Homo sapiens: one gene and its partners. The protein of the gene in region 4 purifies or fractionates together with the protein of the main gene of each other region. This does not show direct contact. Each region holds a gene or a part of one and is shown on either strand. Other genes may lie near its edges.

What was found.
Region 1: the proteins of YTHDF2 (region 4) and STK38L purify together in Homo sapiens (pull-down; one large-scale study listed by IntAct). This does not show direct contact.
Region 2: the proteins of YTHDF2 (region 4) and HMBS fractionate together in Homo sapiens (co-fractionation; one large-scale study listed by BioGRID). This does not show direct contact.
Region 3: the proteins of YTHDF2 (region 4) and IRAK2 purify together in Homo sapiens (co-immunoprecipitation; one large-scale study listed by IntAct). This does not show direct contact.
Region 5: the proteins of YTHDF2 (region 4) and EIF4E3 purify together in Homo sapiens (affinity purification with western blotting, with the first as the bait; one study listed by BioGRID). This does not show direct contact.
Region 6: the proteins of YTHDF2 (region 4) and AGL fractionate together in Homo sapiens (co-fractionation; one large-scale study listed by BioGRID). This does not show direct contact.

What each region holds. Positions count from the first base shown.
Region 1 is NC_000012.12:27,303,286-27,306,785, reverse strand, and holds part of STK38L (serine/threonine-protein kinase 38-like), read right to left. Parts: intron 1-3,500. UniProt on the Homo sapiens protein: Involved in the regulation of structural processes in differentiating and mature neuronal cells.
Region 2 is NC_000011.10:119,083,553-119,087,680, reverse strand, and holds the start of HMBS (porphobilinogen deaminase), read right to left. Parts: upstream 2,801-4,128; 5' UTR 2,648-2,800; coding exon 2,615-2,647; exon of another isoform or gene 2,524-2,614; intron 1,871-2,523; exon of another isoform or gene 1,788-1,870; intron 1-1,787.
Region 3 is NC_000003.12:10,213,419-10,216,918, reverse strand, and holds part of IRAK2 (interleukin-1 receptor-associated kinase-like 2), read right to left. Parts: intron 3,436-3,500; coding exon 3,371-3,435; intron 1-3,370. UniProt on the Homo sapiens protein: Binds to the IL-1 type I receptor following IL-1 engagement, triggering intracellular signaling cascades leading to transcriptional up-regulation and mRNA stabilization.
Region 4 is NC_000001.11:28,739,940-28,743,439, forward strand, and holds part of YTHDF2 (YTH domain-containing family protein 2), read left to right. Parts: intron 1-2,463; coding exon 2,464-3,500. UniProt on the Homo sapiens protein: Specifically recognizes and binds N6-methyladenosine (m6A)-containing RNAs, and regulates their stability. M6A is a modification present at internal sites of mRNAs and some non-coding RNAs and plays a role in mRNA stability and processing.
Region 5 is NC_000003.12:71,687,403-71,690,902, forward strand, and holds part of EIF4E3 (eukaryotic translation initiation factor 4E type 3), read right to left. Parts: intron 2,764-3,500; coding exon 2,608-2,763; intron 1-2,607. UniProt on the Homo sapiens protein: Recognizes and binds the 7-methylguanosine-containing mRNA cap during an early step in the initiation of protein synthesis. May act as an inhibitor of EIF4E1 activity.
Region 6 is NC_000001.11:99,877,861-99,881,360, reverse strand, and holds part of AGL (glycogen debranching enzyme), read right to left. Parts: intron 1,439-3,500; coding exon 1,315-1,438; intron 730-1,314; coding exon 566-729; intron 286-565; coding exon 184-285; intron 70-183; coding exon 1-69. UniProt on the Homo sapiens protein: Multifunctional enzyme acting as 1,4-alpha-D-glucan:1,4-alpha-D-glucan 4-alpha-D-glycosyltransferase and amylo-1,6-glucosidase in glycogen degradation.

The DNA of each region.
Region 1 (3,500 bases), on a different chromosome or scaffold from region 4:
GGTGACAAGACCGAAACTCCATCTCAAATATATGTGTGTGTGTGTGTGTGTGTGTGTGTGTGTGTGTGTGTTTATAAAATTCCTGAAATACCAACACTGGCAAATTCCTGCTTTCTTTAAGGGAAGCTACTTAAATATCAGTTTTAACGGAGCTAAAATTACATTGATATAATTAAGAAAACAAATGTGGCCTGAAACAATAGTGAAGACTATTTTTTGCTGCTTTTTACCTAAATGCAATGACAAATACCCTTTTTTGCACATAGGTGTTCAAAAATACCTTTTGAATAATAAAAAAATAAATTACTAGTAAAACAAAAGAGAGCTCTAAAAAGTATCTGATTTTAAATTTTAAGACTAATTTTTAAAAGGCCACTTGGTGGCACTATAGTATCATGTCCTTTAAGGAAGTAGTGAGGAGGGTTTTTTTTTAATTACATAAAAGAATAAGAATTTTGAAAGTATTTTGAATCTCTCCCTTTATAGATTATAAAACAGTACAGTTGGATATAGTTGCAGAAATCCTGCTTAATCTGAATGGAAAAGATGACATCACTATACACAGTTTCATAAATTGTCTAGTAGTTTGTATAATGCAGCACTCACACAATTTATGTGGTTTTGGGCCCAGCCATTTAATAGCAAAAAGAGAGAGTCACAAGTGTATGGAACACATAATTCTATAAAAATGAGCATCACCTATAACATTGTTACATTAGTTAAAAAAAATTGATTCCATGATTTTAGTCTTAGAATCAGTGTTGCAGTCCAGAGGTAGCTGAATCAAATTCATGTTAAAAAAAAAATTGGTGAAAAAGCCTGTTGATATATCTACTCACAACCTGTATAGATTAAGTAGCCTTGAAAGACAAACAGTATCCTTGTGGTAATTGCATCCTTTCCTCTTCAAAGAAGACAATAAAAATCTGTGGACAGCTTAACATTTCACGACTCTCTTTTATAGCTTGAACTTGCCTATTTAGTTTTTCATTAGAGTAAATAACATTCCATGTTGGATGGGATTTTCTTAAGTGAGATGAAACTAGAAAGTGCTTTTCTTCCTTTCTCCATTCCTTTTTATATAGGTGTTCCTCAAACTCTCCATCTGTAGGGTGGCCAGTATTTGTATAAGACAGACAGTGCATACAAAATTTTTCAGATGAAAAGGGTTCAGCTAGCAACTTTATCTATTTTATTTTTATGAGACAATTTTATTTTTTATCAAACCCACCCCATATAAAGATGCTGTAACATACTTTATATTAAGGTTGAGAGAGCTTGTCTATTTTACAGAATTTGATATAATCCAGGCTCTAGCATGGAGCCTAATAATAAGCACCTGTGGAATTAAAAACATTTTTTAGAGAAAAACATTAGAAGTTTTATAAACTGGTATTATGGGCCACTGACTATTTTTTATGGAAAAATCATCTCCTATTTTCTACAAGTTATTCAGAAAAATTAGAGAAAATAGCTGTAAATGTAGTCAGTACTTGCTGATGCAGACCAGAAGTTGCAAACAGGAAGCTACAAACTATATTCAACCTACAGATATATTTGATTTGGACTGCAAGTTGTTTTTCAAAAGCAGGTGATTGGTTATTCTGCAAAAAAAGTCCAGATTACTAGCTTCTCTGGAAAAACAGGGCCTTGGCCACAGGGGCCAATGGTAGCAATCCTCTTTAGATGAGCCTTGGTTCCCTAATTTGTCAGTCCCCACCACTGATGCGAGTCCCTAGGAGGCATGTCCACATGGGCTGGGACTCTTATTACAGCAATGTGAAAAGTGGCATGTCTTTGCCAACAGATAAACTGTAAGGATCAATATTTAAGAAAATAATATTTTTTAAAAAGGAAAAATATTAATCTATTTCTTTGTGGAAGCAAAAAAAAAATCATATAAGTTGAATATGTAAACAAAGTATATCTGGATCAAAAGAATATAACCCTAGATGCCACTATGAAACCAACCTGGCCAGCTTATCTCACTTCCGTTGCCTGCTTAGTGTTTGGGCATCTGTTTTTGCAGTCTCTTCCCCTACACTTCAAATTAAGATCTTATGTTTAAGATTTCTATATCAATATAATGATGTATAATATATAAATGCAATTATATGGTTATTAATTATAAGAAATTTATAATTCTAACTTTAAAATGAGGAAAGATATGCTCAGTCTTATTTTTTCTCTATAGATTGGAATACAGATTTAAATCACTACCTTTCTCACTAAAATTTAAAGGACATAAATGAGCTTTTAAAATATTAATGACATGTAAATAATGATAGATAATTTTAAATGTAAAAACATCTGAGTTTTCTAGATTGAGTCAACTGATTAACAAAGTTACCACCTTTAGTATAAGTCATAAAATATTGTATTTGATTTAAACATTGCAACTATAAGGAACAGCTACAGTCCTAGGAAAGGTACAGGGAAGATTAGATACTGATTTGATTTCAATTAATCATTTGATGATGGTCTACTCTTTAAATATAGAAACTCTTTTTTTTTTTTTTTTTTTTTTGAGACAGACTCTCACCCTGTCACCCAGGCTGGAGTGCAATGGCATGATCTCAGCTCACTGCAGCCTCTGCCTTCTGAGCTCAAGTGATCCTCCCACCTGAGCCTCCTGAGTAGCTGGGACTACACACACAGGACACCATGCTTAATTTTTAAAATTTTTTGTAGAGACCAGGTCTTACTATATTTCCCAGGCTGATCTTGAACTCCTGGGCTCAAGTGATCCTCCCATCTTGGCCTCCCAAAGTGCTGGGATTACAGGTGTGTGCCACTGCACTCAGCATGTTAAACTAATTAATCTGGGTTGTGACTCCCTATTGCCTAGTACTAAAGTATACCTTTTTTAGTAAACTATTCTAAACCTAGCTTTCCATGGTGTGCTATCAACTTACCTCACTATTTCCTTTTATTGCACCCTTTATAGCTCAAATGTAAACTCATTATTCTGTACATGTATTCATTATTTTGTATACATCCCTTACCTCTAATGTAAATTCTACCCATTCTTTACAATTCAAATCAATTATTACTTCTTCTATGAAACATTTTCTGATCCTCTGAATTAGAGGAAAAATCTTCTCTATATTTTCAACGTTCACCACATTCTATCATGCGTACATATTTTTACACACACACACTCACTCACTCTCCCTCTCCTAATCTAAAACTCCTTGAGGGCAAAAGCCATTATTTGTTTATTCACCAAATATTTATTCTAGCTCTCTGCCAGACAGCTGTGGAGATGTAATGCTCAACAAGATGTTACAGTGTCTAGTCTTTGGGAAGACTGTATTTTAAGGCTCCCATGGGGACAGGAACAGTAGAATACAGAAGGTACCTTGAGAGGTTAAGGAAGATTTCCCAGTGGAAGTGATGCCTGAAGTGAGGCCTAAAGCTGCTGCTTTGCCCAGGCTGGAGTGAAGTGACATGATCATAGCTCATGGCAACCTCAAACTCTCAGGCTCAGGTGATCCTCC
Region 2 (4,128 bases), on a different chromosome or scaffold from region 4:
AAAAGAAGTCAAGAGGATGAAGATCCCACAGTGGGGAAAGCTGACAGTATTAAGGGTCCCTTAATCTGGCTGGACTGCATGCATTAAGGACTGAGGTAAACGGATCTGACGTACAGTCCTGCTCAGCCTCTTGGCTGGGTGACCTTGGGTACACTGTCCCACCAGGATCTGTTTGTTCATCTATAAAATGAAAAGGTTGGACTCAGGTTTCTTCTGCCTCAGATGTTCCATAAGACTAGGAGGCTGCGCTGCCTAAAGTTCGTGCACCTAGAGTGCTGCCTCTGGTTTCACCAACATGGAAATATTAACAGGCCAGAGCCCAAGTCAAGAACTCAAGAGGACACGCCTCTTCCTCCTGCCAGAGTACCTTGGACAAAAGTATTCACTGCTAAGCACGTAGAACTGAATTCTTCAGTCTAAGACGGAGGTCCCATTTCTCTCTTTTTTTTTTTTTTTTTTTAGACAGAGTCTCACTGTTTTGCTCAGGCTGGAGTGCAGTGGCGTGATCTAGGCTCACTACAACCTCCACCCCTGGGTTCAAGCTGGAACTACAGGCATGTTCCACCATGCCCAGCTAATTTTCACATTTTTAGTAGAGACGGGGTTTCACTGTGTTGGCCAGGCTGGTCTCGAACTTGTGATCCTCCTGCCCCAGCCTCCCAAAGTGCTGGGATTACAGGCGTGAGCCACCACGCCTAGCCTGATCCCATTTCTTTCTACATCAGACAGTAGCCACTGTAGATACTGATACTGTCGACAGTCAACATTCCCTGATCTGGGATGTTCATCCTATGTAGTTCCTTTTTTTTTTTTTTTTGAGACAGAGTCTCCCTCTGTTGCCCAGGCTGGAGTGCAGTGGCATGTTCTCAGCTAACTACAACCACTGCCTTCCAGGTTCAAGCGATTCTCCTGACTCAGCCTCCCAAGTAGCTGGGACTACTACAGACGCACACCACCATGCCCAGCTAAAATATGTGTGTGTGTGTATATATATATATATATTTTTTTTTTTTTTCTTTTTTTGAGGGGGAGTCGCGCTCTGTCACCCAGGCTGGAGTGCAATGGCGCGGTCTCGGCTCAGTGCAACCTCCACCTCCCAGGTTCAAGCGATTCTCCTGTCTTAGCCTCCCAAGTAGCTGGGACTACAGGCGCATGCCACCACGTCGGCTAATTTTTTGTATTTTTAGTAGAAACGGGGTTTCACTGTGTTCCCTAGGCTGGTCTCGAACTCCTGAGCTCAGGCAATCCACCTGCCTCGGCCTCCCAAAGTGCTAGGATTACAGGCATGAGCCACTGTGCCCGGCCTAATTTTTATATTTTTAGTAGAGACGGGGTTTCACCATGTTGGTCGGGGTGCTATGGAGTTCTTTTGCACCCAGACATCTGGGGCCTCTATTGCCGAAGCAGGTGACAGCTTTCTGCCCTCAGACTCTGGTCTACTCCATGTGATCACTCCAATAAATTAACCCTGGGAGACCCTTTGCAAATTAGGCTAGGCTTGATATTAAACGTGGCCACCAAAATTCTGGGCCACAGGGAGCCCACAGAAAGGACTCTAAGGTCCCAGAACTACTAGGTTCAAACAATTCCTTAAGTTCATTGAATGTGCACAGCATATCCAAGTCAAACCGTTTCATTAAAAAATAAAACACTGAGCACTTCTATGTTGAAGCTATTGCTTTTGCATATTGTTGTCGTCTCAAAAATCCTATCAGGTGGACAAGACAGGCACCTTTGGGACCATGTTACAGAAGCAACGGGTGGCATCAAGGGATGAGGTGACTTGCCTAGGGTCACAGAGCTAATAACCGAAAGAGAGTTGGGGCCACAATTCAGATCTTCCTACTCCTAGTCCAGGGCTCTGGAATGACTGCAAGAGCAAAGATCCCAGCCCTCACCAACAGGCTGGACAGGGGGAGATTAGCAGCTCCCCATCTCTTTCTTATCTCGGCCTGGCAGTGGCCTCCACCAGCTCTGCAGTTTGTCTGTGCACAAGCCCAGGGCTCGGCAAGCAGGCTCGTAATGGAAAGGCCCACGGCGGCCTCCCACCCACGGTAGTAATTCAGTAGGTGTGTCACAGCTGGGGACTTGGAGCGTTGGCTGTGGCTGGGAGACCACTATAACACAAAAAGAAGGCGCACTTCTAAGACGTTTGTGTGCAGTTCGGAGGCTTGGCTGATACTCTCTCCTATGAATCAAAAGTGGAACGTGTCTTCCCAAAGGGGCCGTATCTGCATCCGCCTCAGCCCAGCCTCGAATGAAAGGACCCCGTCTGTGTAGACGAACGTTCTTGGTCTGGGTCACTAAATCTAGAGCCGTGCATCCCAGGCCTGATGGGAATCCCACCCAGATGCCCGCAGGGACCGGAGTTCCGTTCCAAACAATCCTTCCACTCTTAACCCAGTATCACCGCTCTCTGATTTCCCCATTCCTTCCGGAGGGCAACCGAGCTACTGGCCCTTTAAAAGCTACTCGGACCAAAAAAAAAAAAAAAAAAAAAAAAAAAAAGATAGCCGTTCTGACCAATAGACGACTGAGGATGGCAACCTGGGGCCAATCGCTGCACGGCTCGTCCAGAAGCCCAAAGTGTGCTGGTCACCGGCTCAGCACTCACCGCCGTTGCAGCCGCATTGCCGTTACCAGACATGGCTCCGCTTGGAAAGTAGGCTGTGTGTGGGTGCCGCTAAGGTCCCCCGGCCCCGGGAAGCCGGGGGCTCCGGCCGGCGAGTACCGGGGACACGTGGGACCCGAGGTCGTCCTACAGTCTGACTCCTGGTCTCCGCAGAGCCTCGCGTCACTTCCGGCGCCCTCCCTCGAAGGGGAGGTCCCTCCCTCTGGGCGGGAATTGGAACATTGCGACAGTGGACCTCCCCATTCGACCACCCCATTCCCCAGCTGTGACATGAGCAAGTAGTGCAGCTTCTATGGCGCTTCCTTTGCTCTGTTCAAACTTAGCTTTGCTACAACCTTGAAATAGGCAGCATTTTTCTTTTTGATACGGGGTCTCACTGTGTCCCCAGACTAGAGTGCAGCGGCATGACCACGGGTCACTGCAGCCTTGACCTCCCGGCTTCAGCGATCCCCCCACCTCAGCCTCCCAAGCAGCTGGGACTACAGGCGCACATCACCACGTGGGACTAATTTCTAGATTTTTTTATAGAGACAGCGGGGAGGTGGCCTCACTATGTTGCCCAGGCTAGTCTCGAACTCCTGGACTCAAGCAGTCATCTCGCCTTGGCCTCCCAAAGTGCTGGGATTACAGGCGTGAGCCACTGGCCCAGCCAGCATTTCAATTCTTAAAATGAGGAAACTGGTTCAGAGAGATTAAAGGTCATGCCTAAAGACAAGTAACTGAAGTGGGAGCACAAACGCTACATGTAGTGAGAAAAGGGCTTGTTAGGAAAAGTGCTTTCCCATGAACATAATTTTTTTTTTTTTTTTGAGACGGAGTTTCGCTCTTGTTGCCCAGGCTGGAATGCAATGGCACGATCTCAGCTCACTGCAACCTCCGCCTCCCGGGTTCAAGCAATTCTCCTGCCTCAGCCCCCCGAGTAGCTGGGATTACAGGCACGCACCACCACACCCAGCTAATTTTGTATTTTTGGTAGAGATGAGGTTTCTCCATGTTAGTCAGGCAGGTCTTGAACTCCTGACCTCAGGTGATTCGCCCACCTCGGCCTCCCAAAGTGCTGGGAGTACAGGCGTGAGCCACCGCGCCTGTAATCATGAACATAATTAACAATCATGATTATTAATAATCACCCAGCTAGGTGCAGTGGCTCACACCTATATTCCCAGCACTTTAGGAAGCCAAGGCAGGAGGATTGCTTGAGCCCAGGAGTTTGAGACCACCCTGGGCAACATGGTGAAAACCTCATCTCCACAAAAAATACAAAAATAGCCAGGTGTGGCGGCACACACCTGTAGTCCCAGCTATTCAGGAGGCTGAGGTGTGAGGATCGCTTGAGCCCAGGAGGTCGAGGTAGCTGTGAGCTGTGGTGGTGCCACTGCACTCTAGCCTGGATGACAGAGTGAGACGCCCATTTTTTTTTTTTTTTTTTTTTGAGATGGAGTTTCACTCTTGTTGCCCAGGCTGGAGTGCAATGGTGCAATCTCAGCTCACCGCAA
Region 3 (3,500 bases), on a different chromosome or scaffold from region 4:
AGTGCAGGTGTGAGGAGTCAGACGGAAAGAATGATCTACTTCCTCATGTCCCACCCCTCTTCTGCCCTCTCCTCCTCCAACGCCACCAATAACCTCCCAGGTACCACATACTCTGACCCCTAAGGGCCTGGCCCCAGGGTGGAAAGATGAAAACTGTCTGCCTTCAACGAGTATGGTGGTCCTCATCCTGCTTTACTGCTCTGCAACACATGACATCTCAACTGCCCCATCTCCAGAAACGGAGACTGAGAGGTTAAGGGACTTGCCCAAGGTCACAAACTAGAAAGCAGTAAAGCCAGGACCAGATCCCACACCTGCCTGACTCTAGGACTGGGGTTCTTTCCTGAAATCCTCTTCTGCTGGTTCTCAGTCACCATTCCCTCCTGACTTTCCTCCTACCTCTCTGACCACTCTTTCCTGGCCCTTTTCACTAAGACCCTCCTCCTTTGCCTTCCTCTTTCTGCCAGCTGGACTCCTCATCTTGTTTTGTATGTTGCTCCTCCAGGAACCTCCCATTGCTATAAGGAATATTCCCAAATCTCTTATCTCCAGCCCCATCCTAAGCTCCAGACCTGAATGTCAATTTGCATCCTGATGCTCAGGTCAACATCATCCTAGCCTCAACAAGTCCCAAACCTGCTTCTTCACCCATATTTATTATCCCAGAAAGGCACATCACCACCCACCCAGTTTCCTAGAAACCTTCTTATCTCCCGTATCAAATCAGTCACCATTCACTGCCACAAATAACTTTTAAAATGTCCCTTCATTCCCCTCTCCTCTGCCTTGGGTCACTTGGATTGGGTCAGGCTCTGATTCAGCCTCCCCAAGACTGCTGTAAATGGCCTCCTGCCTTATCTCTCCGCCCTCCTCTGCTTCCCGCAAGCCATCCTATTACTCGCTTTTGCATACTTATTAGAGTTATTTACATGTCAGTCTCCCCACTGGACCATAAACCTCCCCAAGGCAGGGGCTCTGTATGCTTCTGGCGTACACTCCCTAGAGCCTAGAAAAGGGCTTAACTACCCACATTTTCTGAATCAATGAATGAAGGAGTGACTGCCGACTCCATGAAAGCACTAAGCCAAAGTGGAAAGGGAATCATACTTCCAGTTTTTATTAGATGTATGTGTGTGTGTGTATCTGTGTGTGTGTGTGTGTGTGTGTACACATGTGAGTATTCATATACATGTATGAATAGAGAAAGCATTAAAGAAAACATATCAAAATATGGGCCCAGCACAGTGGCTCACATCTAAAATCCCAACACTTTTGGAGGCCAAAGCAGGAGGATCACTTGAGCCAGGGAGTTCAAAACCAACCTGGGCAACATAGTGAGATCGTGTCTCTACAAAAAAAGTTTTAACAATTAAAAATGAAAATATATCAAAATATTAAAACAGTAGTGCTTATTTATAGGTGCTGTGAAAAAGTTTCTATTTTCTTATTTATAATTTTCTTTATTCCTTTTTAAATTTGTTTTACTTTTTAATTAATTAATTAATTTTTTTTTTTTTTTTTTTTTGAGACAGAGTCTCACTCTATTGCCCAGGCTGGAGTGCAGTGGTGCGATCTGGGCTCACTGCAACCTCCACTTTCTGGGCTCAAGTGATTCTCATGCCTCAGCCTCCTGAGTAGCTGGGACTACAGGTGCATGCCAACACACCAGGCTGATTTTTGTATGAATTTTTTTTAGTAGAGATGAGGTTTCGCCATGTTGGCCAGGCTGGTCTCAAACTCCTGACCTCAACTGATCTGCCCACCTCGGCCTCCCAAAGTGCTGGCATTACAGGTGTGAGCCACCATGCCTGGCCTTTATTTATTTTTGAGACAGAGACTCACTTTGTTGCCCCGGCTGGAGTGTAGTGTCATGATCTCGGCTCACTGCAACTTCTGCCTCCTGGGCTCAAGTGATCCTCCCATCAGCCTCCTGAGTAGCTGGGACTGCAGGCATACACCACCACACCCAGCTAATTTTTGTATTTTTTGTAGAGACGGGGTTTTGCCATGTTGCCCAGCTGATCTTGAACTCCTGGACTTAAGTGATCCACTCGCCTCAGCCTCCCAAAGTGCTGGGATTATAGGTGCGAGCCACCATGCCCAGCCAAAAAAAGTTTTTGTATATATATTTTTTTCAGTTGAGACAGGGTCTCGCTATGTTGCCCAAGCTGGTCTCAAACTCCTTGGCTCAAGGAATCCTCTTGCCTCAGCATCAAAGTTCTAGGATTACAGGCATAAACCACCATACCTGGTCAATTTTCTTTATTTTTTAACACTGGTTACAGAATGAACAGATACTCAATTTTCTTTATTTCTTAAAATACCCTACAATATAAGGCACAAGTGTTTCAGATGAAAAATAATTAAAAAAAAAAAAAGCACACACATGGCAGGGCACAGTGGCTCACACCTATAATCCCAACATCTTGGGAGGTCAAGGCAGGAGGATCACTTGAGCCCGGGAGCTCAACACCAGCCTGGTCAACATAGCAAGACCCTATCTCTACAAAAAAAAAAAAAAAAAAAAGCAAAAAATGAGCTGGGCGCACACCTGTAGTCCCAGCTTCTCAGAGGCTGAGGTGGGAGGATCACCAGCCCATGAGTTCAAAGCTGCAGTGATCTACAATCATTCCAAGGCCATTCCAGCCTGGGCAATAGAGCAAGACCCTAGCTCTTAAAAAAGAAAAAAAAGTCAGGCACGGTGGCTCACGCCTGTAATCCCAGCACTTTAGGAAGCCAAAGCAGAAAGATCACTTGAGGTCAGGAATTTGAGACCATCCTGGCCAACATGTCAAAACCCCGTCTCTACTAAAAATATGAAAATTAGCCGGGCCTGGTGGCGCACGCCTGTAATCCCAGCTACTCGGGAGGCTAAGGCACGAGAATCACCTGAACCTGGTAGGCAGAGATTGCAGTGAGCCGAGATCACGCCACTGCACTCCAGCCTGGGAGACAGAGCAAGACTCTGTCTCAAAAAACAAAAAAAGAAAAGAAAAGAAAAAAAAAAAGGAGAGAAGATTTATTCCCATGTGGAAGGAAGGAGTTGGAGTAAGCCAAGTTTCCTTTATAATTCTAATCTACACATAGAATTGCTACACAGGAGAAGAATGGACTCTGGAGCCAAACCAGGTAGATCCAAATCCTGGCTCTGCCACTCATTAGCTGTGTGACCTTGGATGAGACATTTAACCCCTCTGTGCCTCAATTTACCCATCTGTAAAATAATGTGATAATAGTAGCTACATTTATAGGGTTCTTGTAAGGACTAAATGAGTTTATATATAATAGAGTGCTTAAAACATGACTGGGCACACAGGAAGCACTATATAAAGGTTAGCTATCATTATTACTAAACAAAGGGGAGGCTTACCTAAGACAAATCTGCAACTCTGCCTGGAAGAATCTTTCGATTGATCCTGGACTTGAACAGGCTGTCTGTAGAGAAAGACATCAGAACATGAAGATCCCGCCCCACCCCTGCAGCCTCCACCCCCACTAGA
Region 4 (3,500 bases):
CTGAAAGGTCAAGAAATTTATAAGTTCTGAACGTATGCTGTATGAAACATAGTTGGTAGTCCTGAATAACTGCATGCCCATATATGGATCTGATTATCACATAAAACTTGTAGAATCCCTGTGTAAAATTTTCAACACTGAAAGTATAGAAACCACTTGAGCAAGTGATTGGAAAAAAGTTTTCACAAAACACAACCAGTTAATCAGGAAAAGTAGGGAAGGAAGTAGAGGAATGAACTATTAATAGGTTCCTGCTATTGAAGTAGTTTGCTTACATAATCATTATAACAGGGAGAGTTGGAGCATTTAGAAGCATAATTCTAGGTAGTTCTTGTAAAACATTGTGTAATTCAAATTTTTTAGCTTGAGCATGTGGGAGCCTGCCAGTTCAGGTACAGACATTCAACTGTGTCTTGGCATAACCTGTGATATTAAGTGCATTTGATTTTTCTTTCTCAGGTAAGCCAAAGCTTAAATGTCTTTGTTTAAAAAAAATTTGGCTAATAATATAAATCTTAGATGAGTAGATGAGGAAGGGTAACCTGAGAATCTAGTTCATTGTCTAGAGTAAGTCATCTACTTTTTAGCCAATTTTTCATTACCCTATTTTGGAATAATACTTCAAGTTTAATCTGTTGATTATAGGCTGAATTTCTTATATATGTGGATTTGGGTCTGCTAAAATTTTTAACCTTACCTTTGTGAGAAATTTTAAATGTGAAAAGGGTATGTGTGAAAAGACCTCACTTTTGTTTTTATGTATTATTTATTTATTTATTTTTGAGATAGAGTCTCACTCTGTCACCCAGGCTGTAGTGCAGTGGTGCGATCTCGGCTCACTGCAACCTTCACCTCCTGGGTTCACACCATTCTCCTGCCTCAGCCTCCCGAGTAGCTGGGACTACAGGCGCCCGCCACCATACCTGGCTAATTTTTTGTATTTTTGCTAGAGACGGGGTTTTAACTGTGTTAGCCAGGATGGTCTCGATCTCCTGACCTCGTGATCCTCCCACCTTGGCCTCCCAAATTGCTGGGATTACAGGTGTGAGCCACCGCGCCCGGCTATTTATTTTTTTTGAGACGGAGTCTTGCTCTGTTGCCCAGGCTGCAGTGCAGTGGTGCAGTCCGGCTTACTGCAACCTCTGTCTCCTGAGTTCAAGCAATTCTCCCACCTTAGCCTCCTGAGTAGCTGGGATTACAGGCAGGTGCCACCACGCCTGGCTAATTTTTGTATTTTTAGTAGAGACGGGCTTTCACCATGTTGGCCGGGCTGGTCTCCAACTCCTGGCCTCAAGTGATTTGCCCGCCTCAGCCTCCCAAAATGCTGGAATTACAGGCGTGAGCCACTGTGCCCGGCCTGTTTTTATTTTATTTTTTTGAGACAGTCTGGCTCTGTTGCCTGGGCTAGAGTGCAGTGGTGCCATCTGGGCTCACTGCAACCTCGGCCTCTTGGATTCAAGTAATTCTACCGCCTCAGCCTCCTGAGTAGCTGGGCCTACAAGTGTGTGCCACCATGCCTAGCTAATTTTTTGTCTTTTTAGTAGAGACTGGGTTTTATCATGTTGGCCAGGCTGGTCTCGAACTGACCTCAAGTCATCCACCCCTCTGTCTCCCAAAGTTCTGGGATTACAGGCGGGAGCCACTGCGCCTGGCCATATTTCTCATTTTACATCCTCCAGAAACCACTGTGCATTTCCTTTTCAGGTTATAACTGAGTAGTGGGATCTATTGATATTCCCAGATAGTTTGCCAAGAGGCTAGCACTATAAACTGGTAGTGAACCTTGCTTTTTGGTTTATGATTGAGGAACGGCTGTACAGACATTTGGGCTAGAACTTGAAATTTCCATTTCTTTTTGTTATTCTTGTTTTATTATCACCTGGTTTGTATAGGAAGTTGATAAAAGGATTATCTCAACACTCAGGACTTAAACAGTTTGTGAAATGCTAAGTTTTCTCTTTACTTAGTTGTAGTGCTAAAGCTAAGGCCCATATTCACTGTATCAGCTTAACTTTAAATGTTTAAACATTTCAGTTATTACACCAAAATTTCTTATGATATAAAAAATGCCCTTGTGTTTATAGGAAATCATCTGATGTGCTGCACACTTTTTTTTTTTTTCCTGGAGATGGAGTTTCACTCTTGTTGCCCACAGGCTGGAGTGCAGTGGTGCGATCTAAGCTCACTGCAACCTCCGCCTCCTGGGTTCAAGTGATTCTCCTGCCTCAGGCCTCCCAAGTAGACAGGGTTTCATCGTGTTGGCCAGGTTGGTCTCGAGCTCCTGACCTCAGGTGATCCACCCGCCTCCACCTCCCAAAGTGTAGGGATTACAGGTGTGAGCCACCGCGTCCGGCCTGCACACTCCTTTTTATAGTATATTTGAATTGCGTGACTAGGTGGGGGGAGGAAATAGCCTGATGTTAATTTTTTGTGTTTTGATTTGCCTTTTTTTTTCTTCCACAGAATAATGCATATACTGCCATGTCAGATTCCTACTTACCCAGTTACTACAGTCCCTCCATTGGCTTCTCCTATTCTTTGGGTGAAGCTGCTTGGTCTACGGGGGGTGACACAGCCATGCCCTACTTAACTTCTTATGGACAGCTGAGCAACGGAGAGCCCCACTTCCTACCAGATGCAATGTTTGGGCAACCAGGAGCCCTAGGTAGCACTCCATTTCTTGGTCAGCATGGTTTTAATTTCTTTCCCAGTGGGATTGACTTCTCAGCATGGGGAAATAACAGTTCTCAGGGACAGTCTACTCAGAGCTCTGGATATAGTAGCAATTATGCTTATGCACCTAGCTCCTTAGGTGGAGCCATGATTGATGGACAGTCAGCTTTTGCCAATGAGACCCTCAATAAGGCTCCTGGCATGAATACTATAGACCAAGGGATGGCAGCACTGAAGTTGGGTAGCACAGAAGTTGCAAGCAATGTTCCAAAAGTTGTAGGTTCTGCTGTTGGTAGCGGGTCCATTACTAGTAACATCGTGGCTTCCAATAGTTTGCCTCCAGCCACCATTGCTCCTCCAAAACCAGCATCTTGGGCTGATATTGCTAGCAAGCCTGCAAAACAGCAACCTAAACTGAAGACCAAGAATGGCATTGCAGGGTCAAGTCTTCCGCCACCCCCGATAAAGCATAACATGGATATTGGAACTTGGGATAACAAGGGTCCCGTTGCAAAAGCCCCCTCACAGGCTTTGGTTCAGAATATAGGTCAGCCAACCCAGGGGTCTCCTCAGCCTGTAGGTCAGCAGGCTAACAATAGCCCACCAGTGGCTCAGGCATCAGTAGGGCAACAGACACAGCCATTGCCTCCACCTCCACCACAGCCTGCCCAGCTTTCAGTCCAGCAACAGGCAGCTCAGCCAACCCGCTGGGTAGCACCTCGGAACCGTGGCAGTGGGTTCGGTCATAATGGGGTGGATGGTAATGGAGTAGGACAGTCTCAGGCTGGTTCTGGATCTACTCCTTCAGAACCCCACCCAGTGTTGGA
Region 5 (3,500 bases), on a different chromosome or scaffold from region 4:
ACACTAAAATTTGATATTCATATAATTTTCATGTGTTACAAAATATACTTTTTCTTTTTTTTCCAACCACTGAAAAATGTAAAAAGCATTCTCAGCTATACCTATACAGAAACAGGAGAGCGGAGAGGGTAACACAGAGGGCAGATTTGGGCTCCAGCTTCCTGCTGTAAACAATTCTCACACCAGAAAAGACCTTTGTCACTCAGCTGTTCTGAAGAACTTAGCAGAATTGGCCAGGGTGGGGCTGGTCAGTGAGTGGAGTCTGTGCATTGTGAGTTTCTCAGTCAAATAATGTGTATCCATATCAAATGTAAGTTATCAATGGCCCAATGCCCATCTACCCGCTAGAGGCCATGACTGAATATGCTTGGGTTCTTTCTACATGGAAAATCTACAGTCACCTGGCTTATGTAAACTTGGGAATACTTACACTAGGATCCTATTAACCAAACCAGAGTAAAAGCATACATTGGCCATTTCTAACTTAGCTTACCCTGCTGTGAAAAAGATTTCAGCCCAAATCTTATTTTTCCAAATTACTTCTGCAGCAAGTAGTGTATACCCTGCTGAGTAAAGGACTGCCTGCTTTGTTTACAATAAAGAAAACTGCTTGTTTTTTTTCAAATTCAGATTTTTATTTGAACAATCTTTGAGTTTTTAAATGCCAATTTATGCCCTTAAAGTATGAATTTCTGCTGAGACCCTTCCTCAGTTCTGTATTACATACTTTGCAATGGCCCCTACCTTTAGGTATCTATTTGATTTAACTGGCCAAGTTGCAGTTTTCTTTCCCCTTGTTTGGCTTTTTTCTTTCCCAGAGCCATCACAACAGCTAAGCAGTGAATCATCCTGCCCTTTGACAATCTTATCTGATTATTGCCATGGCCCTAAAAACTAGCCTAACCACTTTGTGGCCTTATTATCTGATAAAACAGATATCTTATTATCTGTGTTGAGCCTGCTGCTAACCAATGTGCTACCTGGAAACTTAATCATAGAATTTTGCAGTAGAAGGAACCTTGGAGATCATCTAAGACCAACCTCCTCGATACTCAGATGAGAAAGGTAAAGGATGAGAAGTTGTGACTTGCTCAAGGTCACACTGGTGAAGTGGGACAAAAACCTAAAGTGCCTGACTTAACGACCCCAAATTGGTGTTCTCCTCTTTAGAGTCAAGTGTGGAGCTGGTTCAAAGGTGGGAAAAAATGTTTTAGCCCCATACATAAATGCCAATGAAATACACTTCCGTCTATAGAGTTTCTGCTAGTCTTGTGAAATAAAAAAAAAGAAAAAACCCTTGATGACCTTTCAATTAATATCTGGGGTGAAAATACAATTAAAGTATCCCTAAAGAATAAAAATGGCATCGGCAAATTGGCAACTTCTACACCACGCAGCCAATAAGCAACTTCTGCAGTGCCATTTTTCTGTCTCTTTTAAACTTCCATTTAAAATTCAGAATATCTGTAGTGCCAGATCAGTCCCACTGCTTAACATCTAGGTCATTTGGCCTGTAATTATATGATTCCTTACAGGGAGGCCTTAGTGTTAATATCCCCTGTCATACTAGGATACTCACAAAACAAAATTTGATTTTTTTATCCTTTTTTGGCAAAGAGTTGGAAAAAGTGAAGCAATAATGAAATGTATTTCAGCAATTCTAAGACGCACTCCTCACAACTACCACACATATATTTGAAGACCTCTGGTACCAATAATGTGTTACAGTTTAATTGGGAGCCTTTTATTTTTCTTTTTCAGTAATACTAAAATAATGGAGCATTTTATCTTCAAGAGCATCTTAGATTCAATGAAATACGGTAGTTAAAAAATGGGTTACTGACTCCAGGAACAGTTTTGGATATAGGAAATTTATCATACATGTGTAGGGCTGTCGTCCTTTTCTCTAACTCTGTTAAATGTGTGACCTGCAGTCTGATCTACCAAACATTGGTTTAATAGCACTAAGATGTTTTCATTATGAAAAAGAAGACTTTTTCAAAAGAGCACACAAAAGCAATGAAAATGAATCATGATGGAAAACAATGGGTCCACACACCTATTCATACTGTTAACATTTCACCACTAGGCGTGAATTCTCCCTCAGTTCTGTGTCATAGTCATTCATAATGAGGAAGTATTAGCATTTCAGTAGAACATTCAATCACGCCTGTGCTCAGAATGCATTTCTTCTGCAAATACAGATGTTATACATTATAAATTCCTGTTTATGAAGGGATGATTGAATATCTACCTGCCAGTTCATATAATGACATTTTTGTTATTGTTGTTTCCAATAGAATGTAATTTTTTTTCTGAGAATTACAAATTTGAGTTCAGGTACAAATTTTTGAAATAACAAATACAATATTTGTTATTTCGTTTTCTGATCCACGCAGTTAGGCAAGAATAAAATCTTACTTTAATTTCTGAGACTAAGCTTGTTTTTTTTAAAAAAAAAAAAAACTTAAATGTATTTTGTTGAATTATTTTCTGAATTATCAAATTTCAAGTAAATCTGCCTTCACCACATTTGCAAAACAGTTTCTATCTTTAAAAGTATGATAGAGTAAGCTAGAAAGTAATAACTGGAAATGAAGCACTTACGTTTATAAAATACTGCTTTAAAAGTTATGTGGGGCAGAAGTTCATAGATCTTTTCTAAAACAGTCGCTTCACCCACTAAAGAGGCATTTACATTCCAGACTTGGACGACGTCTTCTCGGTCCCGAACACTGACACTAACTCCTATTACTTCATCATCTGAGGGGAAGACAGGAAAAAAAAAAAATGAGTGATACTTCCAAGTCAGTCTGACTGTTTCTAAGAACTTAGTCTTTTTATCTGAAAATTAAGGATAAGATGGAAAAAAGAAGGTGGCACAAGATAACTTGTAAGAAATAATTGTTTCTATGGGGAATCACTGGAGGAAAGCAAGTCAGTGCACAAAAGCTGTAGCAGTCACATCACATTTATCCAGGGACTTAGATAAAGTGTTCCAGCCAAATGCATTTTCCAGATAAGTAATTTACCCTTTTTAACATTACCAAAGCTTTGTGACTATTTCTTACTCTGTTTTGATGAGACTTTTTCTAAAATGGGTTGCATAATTCCCTGCCCTCTGAAAGCCAAGTGAACTGAAATGAACTTTTCCTTGATGCCTTGCTGTCTTTGTTAAGGAGAGCAAGAATTTCTCCTGACTTCCTGCCAAGCTTTCAGGGACCTTGGAGTGGTCAGCGCTATCTGCCCCAACACGAACTGGAGCCAGATTGTGCATTCTCGACTGCTCATCTGCTTTCTGCGGTTTACTTGTCTGCTCCTTTCCTATGAATTCTTCCTGCTTCCTGATGCCTCCCTCTAGAAATCCCTTTTCTGGTTTTGGGCATTATATACTGTGGGCTAGAGAGCCAATGACCATCTGTTAGCACTGTGTATAGAGTGAGAGTAAAATCTTCTGAGTACAGCTCTGCTATTATAGGATCGTCCTTCAATGAATGAAC
Region 6 (3,500 bases), about 71 Mb from region 4:
ACCTGTGTTTGAAGGCAATGCTTCAGGATTCCACTTAGTGTAAAACCGTTCTTCAGAAACCACTGAAATCTGGACAAAGGTAAAATTTAGCATGGATACATCTTAATTACAATGAATTTTTTTTAATAAAAATGCCCAAAGTTGTTGGCCATGTAGGTTTTAAGAAACAACATATAAACAAACCTGATGAGGCACTAATTCATCATAGCCTCTTGTACTTCCACTAGCACAACATGCCATAGAAACAATTGTAGTACTTGGAAGAGCATCATACGCTGATCTATGCTAGAAGACAACAACAACAAAGCAAAAGTTTGCTTTCTTTCAAATGCAAAGTGCTATTCTATAGCATAATGAAGTAAAAGGATAATTACATAAATAAATTCATAAGGTAAATTAATTTGCTTTTAAACAAGTAAAACATTCTGAAAACTATGTATTATAAATCAGTTATAAATCTAAGACACTATTTTGAAGTATATGGGTATGATTGTGACCAAGTGTCAGAGAGTTAAATATCAAAGCATTTAGCAAAATAAGTACATGAAAAAGATTAGGTGCTTACCACAATAGGACACTCATTATCATGCGTAATATCCATAAACAGGGCATGTGCAATAGCTGGCATTAAAGGCCTCAAACAGGGCTGAACAAAGGATCCAACAGGTTCTCCTCCATATCGGTAAACTAATCTGCCCTCTTCATGACTATTATATGCACTCATTGCCTCTGCAGAGCATTACAGAATATTTTAACAATCTTCATTATTTATGTCCAGGAAGAGGTTAGATTTCTTCTCATAAATGATTTTCAAAATAAAGACCACATCAATATTATAAAAAATAAAACTGCTTTAAGGATTTAAACAAATGTCTACTAGTTTAAGTGACAAAAAAGTTTTCCCCATAACTTAACTGGAGAAATGGCTCATGTAAGGAAAAGGGAACATATGTTGTTTACTGGGATGTAAGCTATACAAAATTGATTATAAAACATCTAAACATTACATCATATCTCCCAGTAGAAGATGAAAAACAGGTTTGCATATTTTCAACAACAAAAAATGGTTTTGTTAGTGAGTCTTCAGTTCATCCTACTGGTCTTTCAATTTGAAATGAGGTATCTTACCCCAAAGTAGAAATTTATACTGATAAAAATAGACTGAGTTATATTAGAATATGTCATACAAAGTATTTAGAAGAACATTAACTGTGTTAAAAAATTATTAAGCATTGCATATGAAGCTATTAAATCCTTTAATCTACTTAAACAAAAGCTAAAGTTTTAGAGGGAAATACACTCCAACAAGCCTACCTCTTATTAAGGAACTAATGCCCAGTCTAGTAACAAAGACATTGTCCAGATCTTCACTTCCTGTGAACAGTTCAGCTACTACATATAAATTGGGTTGCAAATTCCTAGCAGCATCCAACATGTACTGTAAAAAGCACAGTGACAAATGTAACAAATAAATGTAACAGAAAGAGAAAAGCAAGATAGGAGGAAGGAAAGAGACAAAAGGAGGCATGATTTGACATAGAAAAATATGCAGCAAGATATCAAACATACCAAAACACATAGAAACAAGAGAATTTATCAAGAGAAGAAAACGGTTAAAAAGGAAGATTAGATTTTGCAAAGATATTGAGACATGAGAGAGGAAAAGAAGAAGAAAAATGTTAGTTTCATATTACTAAATGTAAATCATAACACTACAATTCTGTTAGGTTTTCTCCCTGTTTTTTGTTTGCTTATTTATTTATTTATTTATTTATTGAGACCAAGTTTCGCTCTTGTTGCCCAGGCTGGAGTGCAATGACATGATGTGAGCTCACCACAACCTCCGCCTCCCAGGTTCAAGAAATTCTCCAGCCTCAGCCTCCCGAGTAGCTGGGATTACAGGCACGCACCACCACACCCAGCTAATTTTGTATTTTTAGTAGAGATGGGGTTTCTCCATGTTGGTCAGGCTGGTTGCAAACTCCCAACCTCAGCTGATCTGCCTGCCTGAGCCTAAAAGTGTTGGGATTACAGGCGTGAGCCACCGTGCCTGGGCCTGCTTGCTTATTTTTAAAACTTTAATCAGACTTAATTTCCAGGTGGTTGACTAAATAATTATTCATAAATTCCCTGCTGGTGAATTACTTAGCTGTTGGAAAGATTAGATTTGTCTGACCAGACTGAAGCCAGTTTCTCCTACAGATGATGATAAATAACTCTTAAAAACTCTTACACCTTACAATTTCCACTTGTGTGATTTACGTTTAACACTGGTGCTATCTATCTAGCTGTTTATTATAAACACTGGTTTATAATAAAAAATCAGATTGGTTCCAAACTGTTAAACACAACATTTGCACAAAGATTAATAAAATACTTGAAACTCTATTAGCTAACAAGTAGAATCCTAGATTTTGTAATTTAAAATTAAGTAAATTAAGTTTGAACATTCTTTTCTGCCATGTAACAATCTTAGAAGCATATTTCTTTTTGCTATTGCTAAAAGCACAATAAAATAAAGCCGTCATTTTTTGGAACTAAACAATGTTCTACCAGCTTAACTAATATTCACTAAATCCCTCCAAATCAAATCAATTTTTCATCATAGGACTTGAAATATATATTATAATACTGCTTTAATATTATAGAAATAGACATTTTTTAGGTAAGCACACATTTCCAAAGAACACCTAAGTGACACTGGTCACTAGTAAGGTATCAAAAATCTTATAAGCAGTGCCACTGTAGGGTTTCTAAAAATAACAAAAAAAACTTATAAGCAGGATGAAAATTATGAGTTTAATTACAAAGATTGTATTAGATAGAAGTTAATACTATAAGTATTGGCATTGTTCAGAAGTTATTGTAAAGAGCTCAAAGAGAAATAGACAATGTTTATGTTTACACTTATAATTTTTATAAATAATAAAAATTAAATCGATGAGGCTAGACTGGCTTCAATATGCTATAATGTTAATGTTTATTTTTTATTTAATTTAATTAATTAATTTATTTTTTAGACAGAGTCTCACTCTGTCGCCAGGCTGGAGTGCAGTGGTGTGATCTCGGCTCACTGCAACCTCCACCTCCTGGGTTCAAGTGATTCTCCTGCCTCAGCCGCCCGAGTAGCTGGGACTATAGGCACACACCACTATAATGTGTAATAAGCTATTCACCTTCACAGTCACTTCTAAAATATATTGAAAGCAACCTAAAAATAACAAAAATTAACATTTTATGTATTCACAGTAGCCAATATGATTGCACTCCATATTATCAGAAACGTGATCAACTTCCCTAAATTAAAATTTTAAAATTAGCTAGTTAAATATTTTATAGCCCAGTATTCCATAACAACTGCAAAAGATTGTTAGAATTATGCTAATTATGCAATAGTGATAAATACTACCACCAAATCAATGCTTGTGTCCAACTAGCAAAAGGAAACATTTACCTGCATAGTTTACTTAAGGAAAGCTAGGAAGGAACACTGAATTTCT